Regions from separate parts of the Homo sapiens genome. Here region 1 is linked to region 2. The links come from fine-mapping of genetic effects on gene expression. Tissue or cell type: nucleus accumbens. Region 2 holds a variant in brackets; the other region holds the start of a gene. All regions are shown on one strand. Distances are from middle to middle.

Region 1 (11,107 bases), 100 kb before region 2:
CTCCCCAGAAGCTGAGCAGATGACAGCGCCATGTTTCATGTACAACCTTGCAGAACGATGAGCTCATTAAACCTCTTTTCTTTATAAATTACTCAGCCTCACATATTTCTTTATAGCAATGCAGAAACGGCCTAACAACTCCCCCCACCTCAGATATTAATGGAGGATGAGGTGGGGAACTGGACTTCTACTTTCGTCTTGTAGTAATGAGGTGACATCCCCATTTCCTTTGCAAGAGCACTGAAAGAAGTCAGCAAAAACAAGTTTTAAATAAGAGCCAAAATCTCGTAATACAGTACCCAAAATGTCCAGGTTCCAAACGAAAGTCACTTGTTGTATAAGACAAGTGGAAGGTCTCACACTGACTTTTTTTTTTTTTTGAGACATTTTCGCACTCTGTCATCCAGGCTGGAATGCAGTGGTGCGATCTCGGCTCACTGTAACTTCTGCCTCCCGGGTTCAAATGATTTTCGTGCCTCAGCCTCCTGAGTAGCTGGGATTACAAGCATGCCATCACACCCAGCTACTTCCTGGAGGTAGAAGCCCTATCTTACAAGCTCAGTGCTCTCTGATGATGTCCCGGATCATGATAAAAGTTTTTTTTCAAACTTTTTCTCAAAAGCTTTTTTTGTTGGTTTGTTAGTAGAGATGAGGTTTTGCCATGTTGACCAGGCTGGTCAAACTGACTTTTGATGCTTAATATTAAGATGACAGTGATGTGTCACACTGGAAACAAACGAAAAAAGTAGAAAACCTCAGCAAAGAAACAGAAGACTTAGCAAAGTAATAGAAGGTACAAAGAAGAATCAAATGAAAATTGTATAACTGAAGAATATTATACAACGGATGGGTTCAACAGCAAATGGAGAAGGCAGAAGGATCAGTGAACCGGGACATGGAACAATGGAAATTACCCACTGTGAACAACAGAGAGAGAATAGACTGAAAAGGTAAATAGAGCTGCAGGGACAGGGGGAACTACAGCAAAAGAGCTAACATCTGTATCACTGAAATTATGCAAGGAGAGGAGAAAGAAAGTGGGACATAAAATTATTCAAAGAAATAATGGCTGAAAACTTCCCAAATTTGGCTATATATATAATAATAGGTAGTATATATCATATACAGTATAATATATACACTATAGTATATATCATATACAGTATAATATATGTACTGTATAGTATATATCATATACAGTATAATATATGTACTGTATAGTATATATCATATACAGTATAATATATACTGTATAGTATATCATATACAGTATAATATATACTGTATAGTATATCATATACAGTATAATATATACTGTATAGTATATCATATACAGTATAATATATACTGTATAGTATATCATATACAGTATAATATATACTGTATAGTATATCATATACAGTATAATATATACTGTATAGTATATCATATACAGTATAATATATACTGTATAGTATATTATATACAGTATAATATATACTGTACAGTCTATATAAGTATACAGTATAATATATACTGTACAGTCTACATCACATACAGTATTATATATACTGTGCAGTCTATATTATATACAATATAATACAGACTGTACAGTCTATTACATACAGTATAATATAGACTGTGTGGTATATTATATACAGTATAATATAGACTGTACAGTATATATAATATATATGTATATATAGTATACTGTAGTATATGTATATATAGTATACTGTAGTATATGTATATATACTGTATATATAGTATATGTAGTATACATATATACATATATACATACATATATACATATATGTATACTGTATATATATACTGTAGTATATTATATACGTATATATAATATACTGTACAGTATATATATTATATACAGTATAATATATACTGTACAGTATATATATTATATACAGTATAATATATACTGTATAGTATATATAGTATATACAGTATTATATATTATATATACTGAAGGCATATATATACTATTTTCTTTTGTATAAAATATATATATAGTATATATATATTATTTTCTTTTGTATAAAAGCAGGGACTCAGACAGATACTCTTTGTACACCCATGTTTATAGCTGCATTACTCACAATAGCCGAAAGGTAGAAACAACCCAATGTCTATCAACAAATGAATGGATAAACATGATATGGTATATCCATACAATGGAATATTATTGTGTAGTATATCTGTATTTTTGTATAGTATATATAATATATACTATATAAAAATATATATTATATATATACCACACACACACACATATATATACATGTTGGCTCTCTGAGGCCTCCCCAGAAGCCGAGCAGATGCCAGCACCATGCTTCCTGTAAAGCCTGCATAACCATGAGCTAATTAAACCTCTTTTGGCTTATATATACATATATGTATATTTGGTATATATATATATGAATGAACATATCTATGTGTATATATGTGTGTGTATATATGTGTATATATGTGTATATATGTGTATACATATGTGTATATACGTGTGTATATATATGTGTATATATGTATGTGTATATTATAAATCTACAGACCCAAGAAGCTGAGTGAACTCCAAATATTGCTAGGGTAAACCAAGGAAATCCACACCAAGACATATCATGGCCAAACTTCTCAAAACATAAGACAAAAAAAAGAAATCTTGGAAAATATTTATTCAAGAGAAAGAGAAATGAACCTTACCTATGGAGAAGAAATAACTCAAATGATATCAGATTTTTCACCAGAGACCATGGAGGCCAGAAAGTAGGTGCATAGCATTTCTCAAGTGCTCAAAGAAAATAACAGAATTCTATGTCCACCAAAAATAAGAACCAAGGGGAAATCAAGACCTTCTCAGATGTTGGAAAACTAAGAGAATTTGTTGCCTGCAGACCTGGTCTCAAAGAATGATTAAAGGAAGTTCTTGGCCAGGCATGGTGGCTCATGCCTATAATCCCAACAATTTGTGTTGCCTAGGCCGGTGGATCACCTGAGGTCAAGAGTTTGAGACCAGCCTGGCCAACATGGTGTAAACCCGTCTCTACTAAAAATACAAAAAATTAGCCGGGTGTGATGGTGGGTGCCTGTAATCCCAGCTACTCAGGAGGCTGAGGCAGGAGAATCACTTGAACCTGGAAGGCGGAGGTTGCAGTGAGCTGAGATGGCGCCATTGCACTCTAGTCTGGGCAACAAGAGCAAAACTCCATGTCAACAAGAAAAAAAAATTATACCTGATAGCTGAAGGAAAAGTTAAAACACTGATGTGGTTCTAAATGTATGTAGAGAAAATATTGAAAGAAGTATTTTAAACTGGGTAAGGCAAAGGGGCATGAAGTAAGGTTTCTATGCTTTGCTGGAATTGGTTAAATGGCAATACCAGTGGATTATAACTTATAAGTTATGTACATGCAATGTAATACCTAGAGCAATTACTGAAAAAAGCCATGCAAGTGACAAAAACCAAAATGCTAAAAAAATGGACCAAGGCCCTGGATAGACATTTCTCCAAACAAGATACGCAGATGGCCAATAAACACATGGAAAGATGTTCAACATCAATAATCATTAGAGAAACGCACATCAGAATCACAGTGGGATACCACTTCACACCTATTAGGATGGCTATTATTTAAAAAAATCACAGAAAATAAGTGTTGGTGAGGATGTGGTGAAACTGGAACCCTTGCACATCGTGGGAATGTAAAATAGTGCAGCCTCTGTGAAAAACAGTATGGCCATTTCTCAATAATAATTTTCAAAAAGCGCAGAATTACCTTATGATCCAGCAGTTCCACTTCTGGGTATATACCCAGAACTGAAAGCAGGGACTCAGACAGATACTCTTTGTACACCTATGTTTATAGCTGCATTACTCACAATAGCCAAACGGTAGAAACAACCCAATGTCTATCAACAAATGAATGGATAAACACGATATAGTATATCCATACAATGGAATATTATTCAGCCTTAAAAAGGAATTATGACACATGCTACAACATGGGTGAGCCTTAAGGACACAAAGCTAATCACAAAAGGATAAATATTCCATGATACCGCTTGTATGAGCTATCCAGATTAATCAAATTTATAGAGACAGAAAGCAGAATGATGGTTTCCAGAGGCTGTGGGAGGAGAGAATGAAGTTATTTTGTAATGAATACAGTGTTTCAAAACTGTAAAACTTCTGACAAGCTTGTCCAACCTGCCTTATTTTGTTGTTGTTCTTTTTTTGTTTGTTTGTTTGTTTTAAGCTTTTAGCAGCCTGAAGCCATGGTTTTTAGTTTCTGTCTCTAGTGATGAGTGGAAAAGAGGGATGAGGAAGGGGCTTTACTGGCCCAACCAGAAACAGAAACTAAGAACCCATGACTGTATTCTCTTCCTTGGACACTTCTGTGAGAACAAAGCAAACTAAACATACGAGAAACTCTTTGGGGTCTAAGGCTATGCAGAGAGCTTAACCCGATCATCCAAAGGAAAAATTTGATAAATTTAACTACATCAAAATTAGAAATGTTTGCTTGGTGATATATAGTTAAGAGGCTGAAAAGACAAGCTACAGACGGGGAGAAATATTTGCAAACAGCGTAACTGGCAAAGAACTGACATCTAGAATTTGCAAAGAACTTTCAAAACTCAACTGTAAAAAACCAAATAATACAAGTAGAAAACAGGCAAATGACAGGAAAAGATAGTTCACCAAAGAGGATATAGAGATGGCAAATTAGCATGTGAAAAGATGTTAAACATCACTAGCCATTAGGGAAATAGAAATTAAAACCACAATGAGCTATTACTATGTCCCTGTCAGAATGGTTAAAATAAAATAAACAGTGACAACACCAAATGTTGGCAAAGATGTGGAGAAACTGGATGATTCATACATTGTTGATGGAAGTGCAAAATAGTACAATCACTTTGGAAGACAGGTTGACAGTGTCTTAAAAAGCTAAGCATTGCAAATACTGGGCAACCCAACAGTTGCACTCCTGTATGGTTACCTGAGAATAATCAGAAGTGAATAGAAGTGACTCACCCCCCTTAAAAAAAAATAAGAATAACGGCCGGGCGTGGTGACGCACACCTGTAATCCCAGAACTTTGGGAGGCCCGAGATGGGCGGATCATGAGGCCAGGAGTTCGAGACCAGCCTGGCCAAAATGGTGAAACCCCATCTCTACTAAAAATACAAAAAAAAAAAAAAAAAAAATTAGCCAGATATGGTGGCACACGCCTGTAATCCCAGCTACTCAGAAGAATTGCTTGAACCCGGGAGGCAGAGGTTGCAGTGATCCGAGATCGCTCCACTGCTCCCCAGCCCAGCCTGGGTTACAGAGTGAGACTACATCTCAAAAAAAAGAAAAAAAAACCCAAAAATAAGAATAACTCATCAGCAGCAATAACTCTCATTGAGCACCTGCTCTGCCAGACACTGCGCTAATCACATTACATGTGTTATCTCATTTAAACTTCCTAACAACCTTCTTGTCTGGTGTAGACTATTTTTAAAAATTTAACTTTTAAGTTCAGGGGTACATGTGCAGATTTGTTGTATAGGTAAACTTGTGTCATGGGGATTTGTTGCACAGATTATTTCGTCATCCAGGTATTAAGCCTAGTGCCCATTAGTTATTTTTCCTGATCCTCTGTCTCCTCCCACCCTCCAGCCTCCCATAGGCTTCAGTGTCAGTTGTTCCCCTCTATGTGTCCATGTGTTCTCATCATTTAGCTCCCGCTTATAAGTGAAAACATGCGGCATTTGGTTTTCTGTTCCTGTGTTAGTTTGCTAAGGATAATGGCCTCCAGCTCCATCCATGTTCCCGCAAAAAACATGATGTCCTTCTTTTTTGTGACTGCATAGTATTCCATGGTGTAGACTATTATTATCACCACTCCACTTTCAGGCTCAGAGGCTGTTGTTGAAGGCCACGCAGTGAGTAAGTGGCCGTGCCAGGATTTGAACCCGGGTAATAGGAGTACGCGCCTTAATCCTCGCCTTGTCATCCTCAGCCATCTCACAGGCGAGTAAACAGAGGCGAGGAGAGGATAAGCCAGCTGCCCCAGGCCACATTGCTGGGAAGCCAAGAGGCAAGGCCACACTGCCCTGCGGCTGGGGTCCCGTTTGCTAATTCTAGTGCCTAACTTTCTCCAACGTTCCCGGGCCTCTTTCACCCGGTCCCAGGGGCGCAGGCACCACCCTTTTCCTCCAGGAGGAGCAGGGAGAGGGCGGGTTCCCCAGCGCAGTCCCCTCCCCGACCCTCCCCCAGGCTTTAAGCCGGCGCCGGGGCCAGGCGGGGCAGTCCCGGGCCGGCCCGTACCGCCAGGCGATCGCGCTGATGGCGGCGCTGGCAGCAGCGGCCAAGAAGGTGTGGAGCGCGCGGCGGCTGCTGGTGCTGCTGTTCACGCCGCTCGCGCTGCTGCCGGTGGTCTTCGCCCTCCCGCCCAAGGTAACGCCTCCTCCGCCTGTGCGCCCCCGGTCAACCACAGGCGGGATCCTCTTCTCCCAAGCCTCCAAGTTGGGAGACCGCTGAGGTCCCAGTGTAGACAGGCTCCACCAGACCCCCTCGCCTTCCCTCCCTTGCACCTGCCGCGGACCGCTGTGAACGCTCCTAACGCCTCTTCCCTCTTCCCAGCTGCTCCTTAGAGCTTGAGTCCCACCCTGCCTTCTGGATCTCACTTCCATGGGAATAATTTCGTTTCGTTTCAGTGACAGGTTCTCGCCGGTCACCCAGGCTGGAGTGCAGTGATGTGATCATAGCTCACTGCAGCCTCCAACTCCTGGACTTAAGCGATCCTCCTTCCGCAGCCTCCCTAGTGGCTAGAACTACAGGTGCATGCCCAGCTAATTTTTTTTTAATAGAGATAGGGTCTCACTATGTTGTCCAGGCTGGTCTGGAACTCCTGGACTCAAGCAATTCTCCCACCTTGGTCTCCCATATACTGGGATTACAGACGTGAACCACTGTGCCTAGCAGAATTCTTTCTTTCCTGAGCTCTAATTCTGTGCTTGGTGCTGTATTGCACATTTCACGCGACAGTCACAATGAACACTTACTGGGTGCCAAGCTGTGTGACATGGTGCAAGTCACTTAACCTCTCTGAACTTCAGTTTACTCATGTGTAAAAATGGGAGAAATGATAGTGCCCACCCATAGGGCAGCGGTGAATATCAATGAGGCAATATATGTAAATCTCTTATAACTAAACCTTGTACAGAATAAATGCCCAATAAGCAGTGACTGGTCTTTTTCTGCACCAGGTCCTTACGTGATGAGGACGGTAAGATTCATGAGTGCTTACTACGGGTGAGGATTTGCCTTTTGTGTATCACTTTATTTAATCATTTCAACGCGTCTCAGAGGGGAAAGATTATTTGACCCATTTTCCAGAGGAGAAAACCAAGGCTCGGGGAGAGAAAGTGACTTGCTCAGAGTCACACAGCAAGTGACTATGTCGGTATTCAGTCCCCGGCTTGTCAGAATCCAGAACCCTAGCTGTTTTCAGTCTCCCCAAGGAAGTAACCCCTGTAAGATCAAAGGCCGCAGGTGGAGTTCAGGAGTCATAACTGAAATCAACACTAGTGGGGGCTGGAAGGAGATGGTACCACAGGTCCCTTTTGGGTTCTTCACCTGTGCCCTGCCCAGCCCAGCCAGGGCATCATGAGAGGGCACTGGGCTTGTAAGATAAGGCTTCTACCTCCAGGAAGTTGCTTCACCATCTCTCAGTGAGGTATTAAATGTTCACAAAAATAAAAGTAAAGAGGAGGTATAATTTAGTGGTGCATTACCCAGCACCGATCAGCTGAGACCAGGGAGCTTCTCCTGGAAGAAGGAGCCCTCCTTGGGCACATGGAGTAAGAAGGTGACACCAGTGGTTCCAAGGAGACCCAGGGCTAACACACAGCAAGTTCATTAGTGTGGAATTATCTAAGCTATTAGACTTTCTCGACGTGGAAGAGAAAAACACAATAAATGATGGAAGAAGGATGAGGTCACCTTTGCAAAACTCAGCCCACCCCAGGCCACTTTCTGACCTGTGGATCTTAAGATCTTGGACCAATCTCCTTTCCTCTTTGGGTTTTGCTTCCCTGTAAGTGGAGCGATTACACCGCTAGCTTCTGGGATTGATGTGAGAGGTTGAGTAAGGCTTTGTGAAACATCTTTGGTGGAAGTGTGGGTGGCTGAGCCTTGACTGATTGCTGTCTGCGAGGCCATAGGCAGAGCTCTCTGGCAAGAAGAGATAAAACACAAGGTCTCTATTCTCTCAGTAGGGGTCCCGACAGCTTCTCTCTGCTCTGTTCTCTAGCAAGAACATGAACCCAGGAGCAGATCCAAGGGTTAAGGGGCGGGGAGCATTTACTACTTGAGGGGGACTCTTGAAGAAAATGAATACAGATTTACAAATACAGGATTCGGTACGAGGCTTGGGAGAGGTCTGAAGCTTGAGCTTCACAAAGGATCCTCTTCCTATCTGAACTCCAACATGCACAACTGAATGGAAAGCAGGGAGAGATAACAGGGAGAGCCCCTGGGATGTAACTAATCCCTTATGATGGTGCTAAGCCTGATGAAGAAGGTGTTTTATTGAGTGCTTAGCTCTTACCATGTGCTAGGGGCCATGCTAGGAGCTTGTCAGGCTTGTCCCATGTAATGCCCACAACAACCAGAGAGGCAGCTGTTATTTGCATCCCTATTTGACAGGTGAAGAAACGGAAACTCAGCGGGGTTAGGTGACTTGCCTAAGGTTACACAGCTGCTGCAAAGCCAGAATGCAGAGTCTGTACTCCTTTATGTGTGTGTGTGTGTGTGTGTGTGTATGTGTGTGTGTGTGTGTGTGTGTGTGAGAGAGAGAGAGAGATAGGGTCTTGCTCTGTAACACAGGCTGGAGTGCAGTGGCACGATCTTGGCTCACTGCAACCTCCACCTCCCAGGCTTAAGCCATCCTCCTGCCTCAGCCTCCCAAGTAGCTGGGACTATCAGCTCCTGTCACCACACCCGGCTAATTTTTATATTTTTAGTAGAGACGGGGTTTCACTATGTCACCCAGGCTGGTCTCAAACTCCTAGACTCAAGCGATCCACCAGCCTCGGCTACGCAAAGTGCTGGGATTACAGGCAAGAGTCTGTACTTCTTTCTAACTGCTGTGCCTTACATGCTCTTCTTAGTTATAATTCAATACAAACCACCCCTTTGTTCCCTACAGTTCCCTTGTGGGGACCCTTTATATGGCTCTAGATGTCACTGCCTCTTTAAGTGGTTGATGAACCAGGGCCTCCTCCCAGGAGGCAGGCCTGGCTCTTTGGAGGACCTTCGCCTCCCTCAAAATCTCTGTTGGCATACCTGAAGCCTCCTCTCCCATATAACAATATTTATATGATTGTCATTATTAGATTCTCTGACATTAAGAACAGACGTGTTTCTCAATTTCATATACAATGCGAATAAGAAGTATCCTTAGAAAACATCATCATCTTTATTGATCTGGGACACACATTTAATCCATTTCCCATTTAGAAAAAAAAAAAGTGCAGCTCACTGCCAGTGCAGTATTCTCGGTGCAAAACGGGACATGGGTTAAAGCAAGCACAGTAGGTTTGTTATGCACATGGAGCTTCAAGACAATTCTGGTCATCTTCACCAGTCACTCCCTGTGAGAGCCTCCCCAAACAGAGGCTGGTGGACTAACTTCAAAACATGCTTGCTGGGCAATTCAAGACAGGCGTCCTCAGCGTCCACTCCAACATCAGATTGTCACTTCTCAGCCTCTTCCACATGGATATTCTGGCGCCATGAATGCAGGTTGTATTGTATACATGGATCACTAACAACTTGCGAAACTGCAGATATCACATCAGGAAAGAAGTTGGAGATGTTCAGTTATTTGTCATTTACCAGGCAGTGTGGAGTAGGAGACAACCCCTCTTTGGGGCCTGGGTTTCCAGCTTGATGACATCTGTCCACTGCTGCTTTGCTGTTCTAGGAGTCTGTGTGTTAAGAGGGTTGGTTTTCATGCACCTGTTCCTGGTGACTGGTGAGCTTGTCTTCGGGGAGGCTGGAGTCAATCTGCAGAGCAGAGCTGGAAGGAACAATTCTTACATTATGTCCTCTGGCTCAGAAATGCTGTCAGCAGGGATGAAAAGGAGTGGGATGAGCTCTGGAATGCATGGCTGCCGCTTCCAGCACCACTGGGGATCCTAGCTCTTGCTATGAAGAGTGCTGGGGGCTCAGGAAGTTGGGATGCTACCCCAGGGACTACATCAACGTTTTCCAAGAATGGCCATCCTGCGAGTTAGAGGTTTGGGGAGTGATCTTAGCTAGTGGGCACAGATGGGACTCTTATTAATAAAACAGGCTTACAAATAAGCTCCAGCCCCACTTGTTTGCAGAGAAGCCTTACCCCCTTTCCTGCCTTATGCCCCCTGAGAGCAAATTAAATGATACTGACCACCTGTCCAAGAGGAGTTCTTAACACTGGGGACTCACAGGTGACTCTAAAGATGCTCTGAGAAGGAAGAGTTTGGGGATGCTCTCGGCAAGGCTGCTACAGAGTGTTGTGCAAGCTGTGCACTGCACAAGGTGCTTGAGGAGGCAAGTAAGGCTGAACCAGCCTGCATTCCACATGCCAAGCTGTGCACCCTGGTGCACAGCTGGATCCACCTGAGGAAGGGCCTTTTATTCTAATTTGCACAAAGGTGTCACGGTGGCCAACAGCAGACTTACTCTGGGATAGAGATATTTGGGGGGGATGGTAGTACACCTGTAAGGTCAGAGGCCCCCTTTCTTGCATTTGCCTAATTTGTGGGCAGGTAGATGACCAGGAAGATGGTCCTTTCATTCCCAGTTTTGAGGCTTTGGAATCAGAACTGCATTCGCATTCCACATACTTGCTGGGCAAGTCATTTTCTATTTCTGGCCTTGGTTTCTTCATTTATAACACAGCCATAATATTATATTCTTTCCCAGTTATTTTCTGGCCACAGTGAGTTAATACATTGTGCCTGTACTATAAATTCTTAGTTTTTTATTTAATGCTGAAAATATGTTTTAGTTCTCCTATTTTGCAGATGATGAAACTGAGGCTCAGAGAAGTTAAATGTTGGAGAGAACATGGGC
Region 2 (11,107 bases):
CTGGCTTCTAGGACTCTTTCTGTCTGACCAGCACAATGCCCTGAAGTTTGCTATGTGATGGGATCCAGGCCAGGGTGGCCTGGTGAGCATCAGAAGTCTCAACAATCAGATGTGAGCAGACAGGGGCTCACTTGGCAGAACTGTCATCCCAGGTAGGAGGAAACAGGGCATGAGCATTTACCTATTGTTTACTGAACACTCTATATGCATTATCTCATTGAATCCTCAAACAGTCCTTAAAGTAGGTACTGTATTACCCTCATTATAGCAGAGGATGCACAACTTCAGAGAGGGACAGTGTCTTGCCCAAGGTCACACAGCACAGTAAGTGGTAAAGCTGGCATTTGAGTTCAGGTCTGCTGCCTCCAGTCCAGGGCCCCTGCAGTTTGGGGGGAATAGCTAGACATCTCCTTGCAGCCAGACAGCTAACAGCAGGCCTGACTAAGGCCTCCTGCGGAAGGTGAAAATTGATGCTCCTCATGCTGGCTTTGGCCCATAGACCTGTTAAGATTGGTCTGCATGGTAGTCTTTCATTTAAAAAAAAAAAAGCTGACATTTACATTAAAAAGAGAATGACTGGCGTCTTTAGAAAAGCTGGAAAATCTGGTCATGGTGGGCCTCGTTTTCAAGGGGCTTTGACCCTCAACTGGAGATGAATAACAGCTGACCAGACAGGAGGGAGTGGGGGGGGCTACACTTTGTAGCTCACTGCTATTTGCATTCATCCTGCTTTGTTCATGAGCTAAGCAGCGTGGCCCCTGTGGGTACACAAGTTTGCTGCTGCTAGTCTGCCTCATGTACTTAGTTCTTTGCAGACCTGGTAGCTGGCCTAACATCCTGCAGGGGTGCACTGTCTGGGAAGTGTGTTAGGCCCTCTGAGGGTTCTGGCCACAGGTATTCCATTCAATCGCTGTGTAACTATAAGAACGTCACTTCCCCTATCCAGGCCGCAGGACATTCCCCTTCAGGCCTGAGAGTGACCCAGGCAACATGTCCTTATAAGGGAAAGTGGCTGTGCCCCTACTGGTCCATCCCACAGAGGGGGAGCCTGGGGGGCTCAGGGGAGGCCTGCTGGGAGTGATGGGGTACAGAGATGCTGGAGAGGTGTCTGCATTCCAGGTAGGAACTGGCTTTCAGGACAGCCTGAAAGCAGACCTGCAGGGCACTAACTGCAGAGGGTGTGCGTGGGGAATTTACATTATTGAGTACCTACTATTTGCAGTACCAGCTGTACTATGAAGTAATCACGAGGTCTGTGAATTATCCCCTCCACAGCAGCAGAGCCCAGTGGCTAACTGGTATACCCTGAAGCCAGCCCGCTGGTTAGAAATCACGGCAGTACCATTAATAGCTGAGTGGCGTGGTTGGCGACGTAGCTCTCTGAGTCTCAGTTTTCTGAGCTGAAGAATGAAAATAACATCTTTACCATAAAGGGATGTTCAAAGTAAGTGTTCAGTGAATTTGAAGAGAAATTGTTTAGAAGAATGCCTGATACATAGTAAGTGCTCAATAAATGTTAACTGTTATTTTCATTAACTATTTTTTTTTGAGACGGAGTCTCGCTCTGTGCCCAGGCTGGAGTGCAGTGACGTGATCTCAGCTCACTGCAACCTTGTCTCCTAGGTTCAAGTGATTCTCCTGCCTCAGCCTCCCGAGTATCTGGAACTACAGGTATGCACCACCACAAACCAGATAATTTTTGTATTTTTAGTAGAGACAGGGTTTCACCATGTTGGTCAGGCTGATCTCAAACTCCTGACCTCAGGTGATCCACCCCCCTCAGCCTCCCAGAGTGCTGGGATTACAGATGTGAGCCACTGTGCCCAGCCTCATTAAACTTTTTTTAAGGGGAGAAAACCAGCAGAGAGATATGAGGTCACCTGCCCAAGGTCTCATAGCTAGGGAGGGACAGAGCTGAGATTTGAAGCGAGGTACAAGTCAGGCTAAAGACAGGAAGGGGGCTGGGGAAGGAGACCAGAGCCACTGCTCCCAGTACTTGGCAGGGGTCTGATTATCACCTGTGAGTCCCAAGAGCAGGGATCAGGCTCCCCTTGGGGCACACAACTATGGAGTGGGAGGGAAAGGGAAGCTGTATGGTTTCTCTGTGCCTCAGTTTCCTTCTCTGTAAAATGGGGCTAATTCTACCTTCCTGCTACCAAGATTAGAGACATCGCTTGGAAAAGGCTGTCTTTTCCTCTTCCCACACCTTCCACCCGCTCTTGCTTGTGGGCAGAGGATGAGGCAGCTTGCCCAACCCTCTGGGAGGTGGGCCCCGAAAAGGGCGGGACAAGGCAGCCAGGAGAGCTTCATTAAAGAGTGGAAAAGCAGAAGTGGCAGGGATTCCCAAGTCCCAGCGATTCCCCCACTTCCTCTCCACCTGCCACAGCTGCCAGCGACCGCCCGCCTGAAACCACTGCCATTTGGACAGCATGCCAGGCCACCCAGGAGCAGCTGAGCAACTTGTCAAGACCGGGTAGGTCTGGGGACTTTGGACACTGAGGGCTACAGGTGAGAAAACAGTCAGCCATTGGGGGTGATGGATATGAACCCAAATCTTCAGCTCTGCCATTCCTTGGCTATGTGACCTTAGGCAAATCCTCAGTTCTCTGTGAGCCTCAGTTCCCCATCTGTGAAATGGAAGTAATAATGACATCTACAAGACTGTTGCCAGAATTGAATGAGAAAACACATGCTTAGTACTTGGCACCTGCTTGGCTCAGAGGAAGCACTCACTAAACAGCAGCTAGTTTCCTTGCCATTTTCAATACCCCGTGCAGGAATTGTCATCCAATATGACTTAGGACTGGCTTTCAATCCTTAAAATTGTTTTTATTATTAGCTATTATTCCAAAAGCTACTGTGTTCCAAATATTAATTATATAGTAGAAGGGGGTGTTTAGTCCCAAATTCAAATGCCTTCGGGAGCTGGGAAGGGGTTGCACCTGTGGAAGGCCACCTGGGTGTGCAGACGGACCCGTTCATTGATCAGCAGGATGCAGTCTGCAGGGCTGCTCCCCTGTCAAAGGTGGGTAGTGGATACTCAGCTCCAGCTACCTGTTGCAAAGGTGGGAGCTCTAACCCAGATCTTCTTATCTCTCAAGAAAAGCTGGAAACCCAGATTTTAATGTGAAACTTCCTTATTTCCAAATGGGGGCAGCTTACACACACACACACACACACAGAGTGGGCCACAATAAGGCACATTTGCATATGATTCAGCCTTTAGGGCTTCAAGGTTGTGACCTTCACTCCAGCCCCACAGGCCTCACTGCATCTCAGCTTCCCACTGTTCTGGTTCTCCCAACTCCCTATTTCCCGATGGTCAGAGCACAGGACCTTTGCACACGCTGTTCCTTCTGTCAGGGATGTCCAACTCCCTTCTTCACCCACAAACTGACACTTGTCCTTCCACCCCCAGCTGGAATGTCACCTCTTCCAGGGAGCCTTCCTGACTCCCAGGTAAAACTGGGTCACTCTCCATCTATCCCACCCCAGTCCAGGCCCAGGCATACTATGCTCAGAATTCTTTGTTAATGAACTTAAACTCTAATGGTCTATTTAAGTCTCCTCAATTAGACTGTGAACTCCTTTAGTGGGACCAGGACTTAATTCATCTTTGTGTCCACAGGGGTCAGCACAGAGCCTGGGCACAGAGGAGACTCGAGTGAAACATTTACATCGTTGACATAAGTATCATCAGAGTAACAAGTGGTGCAGTTTTATAGGATCCCTCTTCTGTGCCAGACCCTGTGTAAACTTCTTTACATGGATTATTTCATTTTATTGTCCCAGAAGCCCTGTGACAAAGGTTTCTGTATTAGTCAGGACTCATTGAGTTGCAAGTGACAGATTGATCTTACACTGCCTGTAGAAAAACAGACATCTCCTAGTGTGTGGTCCGGCATAGATTTCGGCTTCAGGCATTTCTGGATCCAGGTCCTCCAACAAGGCCACTGGGACTCTCTGTCTGTTTCCTAACACTGTTTTCCTTGTGTTGCCTTCATCCCAGGCCGACTCATACTACATGGTGGTCCCCAAGGCTTGAGGCATCTTCCTACCAGCTTAGCTCTCAAGGCAACAAAGGGCAGTTTTTTTGTCGTTGCAGCAAAATCCTGAGGAAAGCTCTATTGGTCCATCTCCGGTCAGGTGCAATCCCTGCACCAGTCACGGTGGCCAGGGGATCAGAGGTACTTGGATCAACTAGACCCAGTCACATGCTTATCCTTCAAGCTGTTGATGGTGGAGCAAGTCAGCAGCTTTGCCTGTAACCAACACAGTGACAGCCTCCCCACCACCCTCCCTGCCCTTTATAACCATATTCCCGTATAACCTTTCTGCCTGCTCTCACTTAAGATAATGTATGATCTCCAACCTCAAGTGGGCCTCAGTGTTGCCCAGCACATATGTTATTGCCCCAGTTCGTTTGTTCTCCCACTTTCCTGGGCAACCATTTTGTACTTTCTTCTTCCTCTTCAAGCATCCATCACCTCCGCCAGCATCTTACCTTCTCTGCTGACCTTGCTTCCTGCCAACCTGAGCAAACAGAAGCAATCGGTCATGCTACTCTTAATGAATAGTTTTGGAGCACTCACAACATGGCAGACACTATTGTAGGCACTTGGGACATATCAGTGACCAAAACGGACAAAGTCCCTGCTCCGGTGGAGTTGACTCTAGTGGTAGGTAATAGCTGATGTGATACTTACCATGTGCCAGAAACAAAGTGACCCCAGGAGGTGCATACTTTTATTGCACCATTTTACAGATGAGACAGCTGAGACACAGAAAGGTTGTGATATGTACCCAAGTTCACATAGCTGGCAAGTGGTGGAGCAGAAATTTGAGCCCAGGCAGTCCAGAGGTCATGCCCTTAACATTACTCTGCTCTGCGTATATCAGAGGATACTTTTCACAGGTGCATACACGCTGCCTGTTCATTCGCCATCATCTGTACCTATTTCCTCTGCTTTCCCACCTGCTATTAAGGATGAACGACCCCTGCTCTATTCTAAGACCAGCCCCACCTTGCATGTTCTCAGTCTCACTCTCTGCCTCCACCCCTACAGGTGTCACTCCAGGGAGTCTCCCCTTTGTCAATGTCTCCCCTCTCGATGAGATCTCCCACCTGCAAACATGCTATAGATTTCCTCCCTTTACATGAATTCTCTTGGTCCAATTTCCCATAGCTACCAGCCACTGCTTCATCTCCCTGCTGTTTTAGTGTAGAAATTACCGGAAAGAGTTGTCTGTATCTGTGTTTCCTATTCTTCTCCTTCCCGTCTCTCCTGGACCCAGTCTAGTTGGATTTTGGCCCCAAAAGCCACCGAACTCTCCCTGCCAAGGTCAACAGTGACCTCTAAGCGGCTAATAGGCATTGCTCAGTCCTCATCATTCTTGACCTGTTGGCTGCATTTGACGTACTTGATCACTCCTTTCTCCTTGAAACATTTTGTTTATTTGGCTTCCTAAGCACCACATTGGTTTCTCAGTCTCTTTTGCTGGTTCCTCCTTATCTAAGAGCCCCTAACCTTGGAGCGCCTTGAGGCATGTCCTTGGATGTCTTTCCTCCCCAGTGACACACTCTCTTGAGGAATCTCATGGTGCACATGGCTTTAGGTAGGGATATAAAGTTGGGAGACATCTAATAATCAGACTCCCAATGTTATAACTCCAGCCTGACCTCCCCTCTGAATTCCTGACTTCTATTTCCAACCACGTCGTCAAAAGCTCCACGGAATGGCTCAACTGAATCTCAAATTTAAGAGTTCTGAACTGAATTCCTCCTCTCTCCCCCTCCACTCAAACCTGTTTTGACCACAGAGTTCTCATCTCAGGAAATGACACCTTGGTGCTTCCAGTTGCTCAGACACAAAAGCACCTCGTCATCCTTGACTCCCCTCTTTCTCTCACACCCCACAACCAATCAGCCTCTGCAAATCTTGTTGACTCTGCCAACAAAATGTGTTCAGAATCCAAGCTTTCCTTACTACTCCTCTGCCATCGCTCTTAACATAGTGCAAGCCCCACGAAGGTAGGGACTTCTGTTTTTTTCATTCCTGTTTCTCCAATGGTTAACACAAAGTCGTTGCTTGATAAACACTTGTTGAATGAATAAATATAAGGATGATAGAATATAAAAGTCCCTCACAGGCCAACTAGTTCACCCTCCTC[A/T]CCCCTAAATTATAGAGGAGACCCTGAAGTTCAGAAAGAATAGAAGGTCCAGAATCATACAGCAAGCCACCAAGACTATTAATTCAAGTGAAATCGTTTCTCTTCTTCTCTCTCCTCTTACTCATTCTCTCTCTTTCACCTGTGCTTCTCGCTCCATGACTCTTTCATTCTCTTGGGCCAGTTGCCTTCACAAAACTGTAATAATGGACTCAAACAGGGCAGACTTTCATCCTCACATCCTCAGGTACTGCATGGGAATTGGGCTCTTCCCTGACAGTTCCAGCGAGAGTAATCCTGGGGAAGGCTCTGATTGGTTCAGCTTGTGTCACGTGGGTATACAGTGACTTACTCTGATTGGTCCACCTGGGTAACTACAAGGGTGGAGTCTGTTAGCAGAGCCTGGTGATGGGTATGTGGGGCAGGGGCAGTGGACAGACACCCACCCACCCACCTCCTGATAGAGATGCCCTTCAATTTCCTTGTGTGCAGGTGGAGGTCCTGGCACTTGGGGTTCTGGAAGGCCCTTGCCCCACTGCAGGCTGCCTGGGACGCCTTCTCCCAGCCTGTTCCAGCCAGCTGTGGCCAGCTGCTGACCCAGCTCCTCCTGTGTGCCTCCCTGGCTGCTGCTGCTGCAGGTCTGGTTTATCACTGGCTGGCATCCTTGCTGCTTTATCCTCCTGGACCTTCAGCCATGGTTGCCACTGTCTGTGGCCTCCTGGTCTTCCTGAGCCTGGGCCTGGTACCCCCAGTCCGCTGCCTGTTTGCACTCAGCGTGCCCACCCTGGGTATGGAGCAGGGCCGCCGGCTGCTCCTGTCCTACAGCACTGCCACCCTGGCCATTGCTGTGGTGCCCAACGTCCTGGCCAACGTGGGTGCGGCCGGGCAGGTGCTGAGGTGTGTCACCGAGGGCTCCCTGGAGAGTCTCCTCAATACCACTCACCAGCTGCATGCAGCATCCAGGGCTCTGGGCCCCACAGGCCAGGCAGGCAGCCGGGGCCTGACATTTGAGGCCCAGGACAATGGCTCTGCCTTCTACCTTCACATGCTCAGGGTCACTCAGCAGGTCCTGGAGGATTTCTCTGGCCTGGAGTCCCTGGCCCGGGCAGCAGCGCTAGGGACCCAGCGAGTGGTCACAGGGCTGTTTATGTTGGGCCTCCTGGTGGAGTCGGCATGGTACCTCCATTGCTACCTGACAGACCTGCGGTTTGACAATATCTACGCCACTCAACAGCTGACCCAGCGGTTGGCACAGGCCCAGGCTACACACCTCCTGGCCCCTCCACCCACCTGGCTGCTCCAGGCGGCTCAGCTGAGGCTGTCACAGGAGGAGCTGTTGAGTTGTCTTCTAAGGCTGGGGCTGCTTGCCCTGCTCCTCGTGGCCACGGCTGTGGCGGTGGCCACAGACCATGTAGCCTTCCTCCTGGCACAGGCTACTGTGGACTGGGCTCAGAAGTTGCCAACTGTGCCCATCACGCTCACGGTCAAGTATGATGTAAGTGTGATGATGGGAAAAGGGAAGGGAGTCATTGTTTTGAGGGCAGGGGGAGAATCTGTTAAACCCTTGACTTGTGATGAAATTTGACTTGCCTCCAAGAAACAGCCCTTGAATCATCCATGGGGCCCCATACCATGGGCAGAGGGACTCATCGGATACCCACAACAGCTCTAGGAAGTGGTTTCTATTTTCACTTCCTATTGCAGTTGAGGATGCTGAAACCCAGACACCTTAAAATAACTTGCATCCAAGGTCACCCTTCACAAGTGGCAGCTTGTCCTAGCCTCATTTTCCACATTTGTACAAATTGAATCGATCCTCCTAATCCTAAAAGGCTATTGTGTCTTACAATGTGGTATTGTCTTAAAGTACCTAGTAAGCTCCATGGCACATAAGAGATTATTTAATAAAGAGTGGCTATTATTAATAGCTTACATCTGTCTATGTCAGACTGGAGGAGGACTTTGGAATGGCCTTGATCAGGAGGCATCCAACTATAGCCTTCAGGACAAATCCAATGGCTTCTTGGTTTTGTAAATAAAGCTTTTTTAGAACACAGCCATGCCATTTGTCAATATATTGTCTGTGGCTGCCCTACAAAGGCAAAGTTGAGTAATTGCAACAGAGACTGTATGTCCTGCAAAGCCTGAAATATTTGCTATTTTAATAGTGATATAGAAAATATTTACTATCGACTTATAATCGGATATATTACTATCAGATCAAGAGTTGTGTTTTTCGATCCTTTCTTTTGCCACGGATCTTTTTATTTTTAATTTTTAGTAGTGAGGTCTCACACAAAAGTCCATTGCATAAAACATATCAAAGTGTCAAACTTCGAGCTAATAATATTAACAGTTTATATTTATCAAGTACTTATTACATATTAAGAAAGTGCTTTTCAGACTGCACAAAATCAATTTAATCAATTTAAGGAGTCATAAATAGTGTTTTTAATGAAATAGAATCAACTGGAAAATTATAAGATTACATCTTAGGCAATAAGGGAGTGTATGGTTTTTGAATATTTTCTTCAATTACAAAACAATCTCTGCTTTGAAGGTACTGTAAAATGCATTTCTTTTCTTTCCTTTTTTGAGACAGGGTTTCACTCTGTTGCCCATGCCAGAATGCAGTGGTGCAGTGGTGCAATCACAGCTCACTGTAACCTTGACCTCCTGGCTCAAACGAGCCTCCCACTTCACCTACCTCTGCCTTCCAAGTAGCTGAGACTACAGGCATGCACCACCACCACCCAGTTAATTTTTAATATTTTTTTTAGAGATGGTGTCCCACTATGTGGCTCAGGCTGGTCTCAGACTCCTGGGCTCAAGCATTCCTCTCACCTCAGCCTCCCAAAGTGTTGGGATTACAGGCATAAGCCACCATGCCTGGCCTGTAAAATGCATTTCTTACCATAGGTCACAGTAAAGAAATGTGTCAGGCAATGTTCTAAGCATGTTCCCTGATTTACTCATTTTCACCAAATCTCAGATAGTCATCAATTGCAAGTCACACCATTACTTTATGTATCCTTAGGGCAGAAAATGCTACCAATTCAACCTTGACACAATGCTTTCTTATCATTTAGAATTTTTATTGTATTTGTATAAAATAGTTCACTTATTATTTAACATAGGTTTATTTTGCCATATCTTTCTCGCGTATACATAAAAAGAAAAATAGGGGGCTGGGCATGGAGGCTCATGCCTATCTATAATCCCAGCACTTTGGGAGGCCGAGGTGGGTGGATCACCTGAGGTCAGGAGTTCAAGACCAGCCTGGCCAACAACATGGTGAAACCCCATCTCTACTGAAAATACAAAAATTAGCCAGGCATGGTGGTGTGTGCCTGTAATCCCAGCTACTCAGGAGGCTGAGGTGAGATAATCGCTTGAACCTGGGAGGCAAAGTTTGCAGTGAATTGAGATTGCTCCACTGCACTCCAACCTGAGCCAGCAAGACTCCAAAAAAAAAAAAAGGAAGAAACGAAGAAAGAAAGAAAGAAAGAAAGAAAGGAAAGAGAAAGAGAGAAAGAAAGAGAAAGAGAGAAAGAAAAGAAAGAAGGAAAGAAAGAAAGAAAGAAAGAAAAAGAAAGGAAGGAAGGAAGAAAGAAAAAAGGAAGGAATGAGAGAGAGAGGGAGGGACGAAGGAAGGAAGGGAGGAAGGAAGGAAGGGAGGGAGGGGAAGTAATCTGATGGTTTTCCTAAAACATTCAATCTGACTTTTCTGAATGACTCTGGCCGAGGAGTCAGTCTCTGAGGCTTTTCCTCCAATATCATTCTCTGTGCCTTCCAGAGCCCCGGTGATGCCCCACCATTGTTTCCAGCATTTTCTTGCAAGCTGCGGGCCCTCACTCAGCAAGTTTTGAGGCTGGCACTCTCTGATCCTCTGGGAAAGCATAAATTGTACAGGCCCACTCATTGCTTTCACATTATTTCATCTTTTCTGAAAGCTTTGGGAGTTTCTCCTGCATTCATTTGAACCATTTGGGGTGTGGCAAGCTATCCTTCTGCACCTGGGTTAGTGCAGAATCCAACCCAGGTTGGTTCCAAAGTTCAAATGGTGAACTTCTTTCTTCCCTGCCTCTCTAGATACCATTCTTCCTCACCTGGACATACCTATGGAAACTGCAGGGCCCAGTGCTTATAAGCAGGACATAGGGACCCACCTTGGCTGAGACTGATCCCTGAGTTGGCAACATGTAACCCATGTGTGGCTTTGGGCTTCCCATCTTTTTTTTTTTTTTGAGACAGAGTCTTGCTGTGTTGCCCAGTCTGGAGTGCAGTGGTGTAATCTCACTGCACCCTCCCCTCTCGGGCTCAAGCTATTCTCCTGCCTCAGCCTCCTGAGAAGCTGGGATTACAGGCACGTGCCAACACACCCAGCTAATTTTTTGTATTTTTAGTAGAGACGGGATTTCACCGTGTTAGCCAAGCTGGTCTCGAACTCCTGACTTCAAGTGATCCACCCGCCTCGGCCTCCCAGAATGCTGGGATTACAGGCGTGAGCCACTGCGCCTGGCCACTTCCCATCTTTTAAATTAGGCTCCTCCTGGGCTCGACCCATAGAATTGTGTATATTGGATGGAATAGGACATCTAAAGTATTCAGTAAGGACTCAGCAAGGAGCAAACATCCATAGACAATTTGTTTTCTCTAAAATATTCTGCTCAAAGATACTAACCTTAGTAACATTTGTATGGTGATTTTTATTTGGCAAAAGAACCTGTTTCAGACTCCTAGTCTCATTGGGTCCTCCTCAAACCCTGGGAAACGGGTTATTTCTGTAACCATTTTGCAGATGAAGGCAGGGAAAGCTGGACAAGCCTCTCCTAGAGGTGGGGAGTGGCCAGAGAGGCCCTCAGTTGACCCTGCCTTTTTCTCCTTTCCCAAGGTGGCATACACTGTCCTGGGCTTCATCCCTTTCCTCTTCAACCAG

Alleles and levels. Alleles are on the strand shown, and positions count from the first base shown. SD is a standard deviation of normalised expression in the study named.
In carriers of allele T in region 2, the expression in nucleus accumbens of the gene that starts at base 6,294 in region 1 tends to be higher than with A alone (moderate effect, 0.54 SD a copy in GTEx).

What was found. PIP is the estimated chance that this variant, and not a neighbour inherited with it, causes the effect. A credible set is the group of variants that fine-mapping cannot tell apart.
Region 1: SLC13A3 starts here. The variant in region 2 is the best candidate, but not a certain one, in a credible set for the expression of SLC13A3 in nucleus accumbens (GTEx, PIP 0.72).

The regions. Positions count from the first base shown.
Region 1 is chr20:46,646,646-46,657,752 of GRCh38, reverse strand. SLC13A3 (solute carrier family 13 member 3) reads left to right here and starts at 6,294. Exons shown (of 13, transcript NM_022829.6): 1 at 6,294-6,442. The coding sequence starts at 6,332.
Region 2 is chr20:46,541,883-46,552,989 of GRCh38, reverse strand. It overlaps OCSTAMP (osteoclast stimulatory transmembrane protein), which reads left to right and starts at 2,336. Exons shown (of 3, transcript NM_080721.3): 1 at 2,336-2,473; 2 at 6,661-7,663; 3 at 11,063-11,107. The coding sequence starts at 2,430. RefSeq lists enhancers at 7,903-7,972, 7,179-8,030. The variant A/T (reference allele first, on the strand shown) is at 6,172.